2 separate regions of the Homo sapiens genome follow, and region 2 is linked to region 1. The links come from fine-mapping of genetic effects on gene expression. A gene starts in region 1. The other region holds a variant in brackets. All regions are shown on one strand. Distances are between the middles of the regions. Region 1 holds the start of ZRSR2 (zinc finger CCCH-type, RNA binding motif and serine/arginine rich 2). Region 2 overlaps ZRSR2 (zinc finger CCCH-type, RNA binding motif and serine/arginine rich 2).

The links. PIP is the estimated chance that this variant, and not a neighbour inherited with it, causes the effect. A credible set is the group of variants that fine-mapping cannot tell apart.
Region 2: its variant is the best candidate, but not a certain one, in a credible set for the expression of ZRSR2 in fetal neocortex (Walker 2019, PIP 0.80).

What each region holds. Positions count from the first base shown.
Region 1 is chrX:15,789,239-15,792,029 of GRCh38, forward strand. It overlaps ZRSR2 (zinc finger CCCH-type, RNA binding motif and serine/arginine rich 2), which reads left to right and starts at 1,246. Exons shown (of 11, transcript NM_005089.4): 1 at 1,246-1,298; 2 at 1,696-1,775. The coding sequence starts at 1,258. RefSeq lists enhancers at 1,124-1,573, 2,232-2,733.
Region 2 is chrX:15,809,942-15,812,732 of GRCh38, forward strand. All of the region lies in intron 7 of ZRSR2 (zinc finger CCCH-type, RNA binding motif and serine/arginine rich 2), which reads left to right. Among named protein-coding and RNA genes, the nearest start is that of ZRSR2, 21 kb to the left of the region's middle. The variant AC/A (reference allele first, on the strand shown) is at 1,482.

The DNA.
Region 1 (2,791 bases):
TTCAAGCAGTTCTCCTGTTTCAGCCTCCAGAGTAGCTGGGACTACAGGCATGTGCCACCACACCCGGCTAATTTTGTATTTTTAGTAGAGACGGGGTTTCACCATGTTGGCCAGGCTGACGAACTCCTGACCTCAGGTGATCCACCCGCCTAGGCCTCCCAAAGTGCTGGGATTACAGGCGTGAGCCGCTGCACCCAGCCTCGAACTGCACTTTAAATTGGATAGCTGGGCGGGCGTGGTGGCTCGCGCCTGTATTCCCAGCTACTCGGGAGGCTGAGGTGGAAGGATTGCTTGACCCCAGGAGGTCGAAGCTGCAGCGAGTCGTGATTGCGCCACTGCACTCCAACCTGGGTGAAAGACAAGACCCTGTCTCTAATATATAAGAAATGAATAAATAAATAAATTCGATTGCCAAAATTCTTGCTGTTCCCAGCATATTCCACTTTCACCTTTCAGCGCCTTTGCTTATGCTGATCTGACTGTAACTGCATTCCCACCCTTCTCCTTCTGGGTAAAGGGCATCTTCTTTCCAAACTCAACTCTTAGCATCAGAAAGCTGTCCCTGATACTGCAGTTGAGTCGCATGTGATACTGAAAAAAAAAGAAAAAAGGAAAAAAAAGAGAGCTCTCCCTGAATCCCTTGGTGGACTATGTTAGGTAAACTTCATCTTTGCCTGCATCATATTATGTATTGGTTCTTCTCTGCCCCCTCGATTGTAAACTCCTCAGGGGCAGAGGTAACAGCTTTGCAGCCCTGGGAGTTAGGTTTGCTTAAGGGACCAGAACAGGTGTGACTGGCAGGGAGCGAAGTCTGGAGCTTTGTCTGAGGCGCTGATAGGTGGATCGGCGGAAGGACGCGGAACCTGGACAGGTCGGAAATAAAGCCGGGCGAGCAGCTCTGTGCGCGATGTGACTTCATGAGTGGATGCTGAGAAAAGCGGCAGAGTACGACTTTAACCGCCTAGCCACAACACGTCCTGCTAGGGCGAGGAGGGAGACAGTGATACAGCACTGGGCAAGTGCTGAAGCGACAATTACTTCTAGGGCGGGGTAAAAGCCCCAGAGTATTTTTGCTGGAAGGAGGTATTTATTTGAGCAGGGTTCTGGAAGACGAGCCGCCGAAGGGTACCTCCGGCTTTCCGTTTCAAGTCCCACGCTGGTGGAGGTTGCTCGGTACCCGCGCCTGCGCGTGCCCGTCTCGACTCTTAGGCCCGCCCTTTCCTGCCAGACCTGGAGGGGCGGGGCGGTGCCGGCAAGATGGCTGCGCCCGAGAAGATGACGTTTCCCGAGAAACCAAGGTAAGCGCCGTACGGGGAGATGAGCAGGCGAGCGGGCCGATCGTGGGCATGGAGGATGTGGTGGCAGGAAGAAAAGAGAAGCTGGGCCAAGCTAAGTGAGCCACCGCGGCAGCTCCATTCCTTCCTGGTGCGCGCTCTGGTGCCCTCCCCGGACTTGCACGGGCGGCTGTGGCTCAGGCAAGCGAGGAGAGGATCAGGTTGGCGGATGGAGAAGAACTGTCTGGGAGTGGGAGGATGAGGCGATGATAGATGGCTGTTCTGTAATTAAAATACAGGAAGCAAGGTTTCTCTCCTCAGCACCCGAACTATTTCCTTTCATTGGGCACAGAGGAGCGGGGAGCTCGGGCAGCGCTGCATTGTAGCCGCTGATCGTCGTGTATATGTCTTAATCTTCCAGCCACAAAAAGTACAGGGCCGCCCTGAAGAAGGAGAAACGAAAGAAACGTCGGCAGGAACTTGCTCGACTGAGAGACTCAGGTGATGGACTCTTTATTCTGTTTTCTGTGTTGTGAAATTGCTCTGTCCACTCCAGCCCTAACTTGAAGCCCCAGTGTCAGAAGGAAGTCAAATATTGTGTCGGAGGAAAAATAGCTGTGACTTCTGCCCCCAAGTAGTTATTTAGAAACACATGTCAGAAACAATGTTAACATACTAAAGGCAGGAAGAGGAAGTCTTGGTGAATGATCGCCCACTGATTCTGTGTAACTTATAAAGTATCTAATATTACAGTTGCAAGCTTCATGAATTACAGCAGCTAGCACAGTCCTTGCACACGTAGTAAGTATTCGGTGAATGTTTTTCTTCGTAAAACCAGCAGGAGTTGAAGGTATTAATTAGACGTTTTGCAAGTTTTTCTCAAACTTGACTAATATGAGACCCTTGGTTTACCCAAATTATTATGTTATTCAAATATATATCAACATAATACTAGTTATGAAGCTCATTTATTTATTTTTGAGACAGGGTCTTGTTCTGTTGCCCAGGAGGGATGTGCACAACCACGGCTCACAGCAGCCTCCACCTCCCAGGCTCAAGCAGTCCTCCCACCTCAGCCTCCCTAGTAGCTGGGACTACAGGCATTCACCACCACACCTGGCTAATTTTTTCTTTTCTTTTCTTTTTTTTTTTTTTTTTTTTTGAGACGGAGTCTCGCTCTGTTGCCCAGGCTGGAGTGCAGTGGCACGATCTTGGCTCACTGCAGCCTCCGCCCCCTGGGTTCAAGCAGTTCTCCTGCTGCAGCCTCCCGAGTAGCTGGGATTACAGGCGTGCGCAACCACACCCGGCTAATTTTTGTATTTTTAGTAGAGATGGGGTGAAACCCCATCATGTTGGCCAGGCTGGTTTCGAACTTCTGACCTCAGGTGATCCACCCACCTCAGCCTCCCAAAGTGCTGGGATTAAAGGCGTGAGCTACCGCCCCTGGCCCACCTGGCTAATTTTTAAAATTTTCGTAGAGACGGGATTTCACTGTGTTGCCTGGGCTGGTCTCGAAC
Region 2 (2,791 bases), 21 kb after region 1:
TGGGTTCAAAACGGGCTTCAGTGGCTGCCAGTTTGGGAAAGTTGCTTAAGCTCTGTGTGCCTTCGTTCTCTCATCTATGAAATGGGATTAAACATAGTCTCATCTTTCTGAGGGGGCTGTGAGGCCGAAATGAGCACACACACCCGTAGAACAGGGCCCCAGGAGTGCTTGCTGGCATTTTCATTATTGTGACTCTTGATGTTATTCTGTGAGACACTCTTCTTGTTCCCTGCCCCTTTTGGGTCAATGTTTTTGAAAGAAGACGTTCATGTGGAAACCTAGTGTTGATCTCTTCAGTCATTTAGCAAGTCTTCGAACACCTATTATATGCCAGGTAATGGTGATTTTTATAATTTGGCCTGTTTATTAATGAACAACTTAAAGTAGGTAAATAATTCCTAATGGTGAATGAGTCCATCTGAGGCAAAATCTGATAATTATCACCATATATTCTGCAGAAGAGAAGATCTAATCATAACCTTAACATCCTATTAATCCTGAAAAGGGATATGAATAGTAAAATTCAGATGTATTTAATCAGAAACCATATGTCATCTGTCAGCTTTACTTTATTCATAAAAGTATCCATGCTGTGAGGTTTTTTTCCTTCTTCTTCTTCTTTGAAAATATATCCTTCTCTATGGTTCTCTCCTTTTTCTTTTTGAATTTAAGCGTTCACACCATTTTTCATTTTTTAAGAACAGTGGTTCCCAACCCTGGATGCACATTAGAGTCATCTAGAAAGCTTTAAAAAATTATGTCCTACCTCAAGTTGAGTAAATCAGAATATCAGGGCCAGGCGCGGTGGCTCACACCTATAATCCCAGCACTTTGGGAGGCCAAGGCAGGCAGATCACTTGAGCTCAGGAGTTTGAGACCAGCCTGGGCAACATGGTAAAACCTGGTATCTATAAAAAAAAAAAAGTAAAATAAATAAATAATATATTTATATATATTTATATAAAAATATTATATAAATAAATAATAAGAATACCAGGGACTTGGGTGGCCTTAGTTTCAAAATGTCCTCAGGTGTCTCTAGTGTGCCCTAGGATTGAGAGCCACTAATGTCAAGTGTGTATGTCCTTTTGTATTTTAGAGGTGGGATTGCAGATGTCTGGAATGTCTGTGAAAAGAGTCATGGGATCTGCTAACTAGTAGAAAGCCTCCTCTTGAAAAACTGGGAACTAAGAAAAGGAAAGAGACTTTATTCCCTTTGATACCTTTAGAACCATTTCTCAGATATCCACTTTATCTAAACAAGAAATGGTAATGATTGGTGTAAAAAACTTCCCACCAAAGAAAAATGCACTGTGAATTACCTTTCAGAGACAACTGAGACTCCATGTAAGTTCACATTTGCATGGGTACTTGAACCAAATTGCATTTAAGGTTTTCCAGCTGCAGGATCCCTCATGTAGGATCTATCTCTAACATTTCCTCCAAATTTAAGACCCGTGGTAGCCTGATTCTTGATTCTC[AC/A]CCCCCCCCCTTTTTTTTTTGAGACGGAGTCTCGCCCTGTCACCAGGCTGGAGTGCAGTGGCATGATCACAGCTCACCGCAAGCTCTGCCTCCCAGGTTCAAGCGATTCTCCTGCCTTAGCCTCTCGAGTAGTTGGGACTACAGGCGCATGCCACCACACCTGGCTAATTTTTTTTGTATTTTTAGTATAGACGAGGTTTCGCCATGTTGGCCAGGATGGTCTCGATCTCTTGACATTGTGATCCACGTGCCTCGGCCTCCCAAAGTGCTGGGATTACAGGCATGAGCCACTGCTCCCGGCCTAATTCTCCTTTTGTTGGGCATAAGTGAGAGGAGGGGAGATGTCTTAAACGATTTCGAGAACTTGGTTGACAGGCCCTACCTTGTGGGAAGAGGGAATGGCCCGTCATGCTCTCAGATCCCATCTCTCCTCAAGTCATTTCAAGGAAATATGGACAGTGGTCAAATTAGTTTGCGAGCATTTCTTTTTTTTATTTTATTTTATTTTATTATTATTCTTTTTTGAGACGGAGTCTCGCTCTGTCGCCCAGGCTGGAGTGCAGTGGCACGATCTCCGCTCACTGCAAACTCCGCCTCCTGGGTTCGCGCCATTCTCCTGCCTCAGCCTCCCGAGTAGCTGGGACCACAGGGGCCCGCCACCACGCCTGGCTAATTTTTTGTGTTTTTAATATAGATGGGGTTTCACCATGTTAGCCAGGATGGTCTCGATCTCCTGACCTTGTGATCCGCCCGCCTCGGCCTCCCAAAGTGCTAGGATTACAGGCGTGAGCCACCGCGCCTGGCTGCGAACATTTCTTACAATTTTCATAGGCATATGAAATTTTACCATCACAACTATCAAAGTATAACAGCAGTGTGGAGATTTTCATCATTCAAGTGATAAGTTGTGACATGAAATTCTGCGAAATTTGCAGTTACAAAATCCAGCACCATCCCTTTAGACAAGTAGACTGCTCTGTTCCCTTTTTATGGAGAGCCTTGGTGACTTGCTCCAGATCGTACAGCTGTTCTGTTCTGTCGTTAAGTTTTGTCAGAGCATCAGAGGAACACTTCCATAACCTCAGCATTTCTTTGGCTGGTTGTTTTTGTAATTAGTACAGAGTTCAATTCTAGAGCCATGCTGGAATTGGTATTTTTTGGAGTCACAGCTTTGAGGGGAATCTATTTGTTTTTCTCCTAAAAGGTAATAATTACTAATGGAAGGTAAAACTTAGTGGTCTATTTATACCTCACTTACTTCCAAAAGTGATTTAAAGAAGGTTCGTGATCTAGCACATTAAGTTAGAGA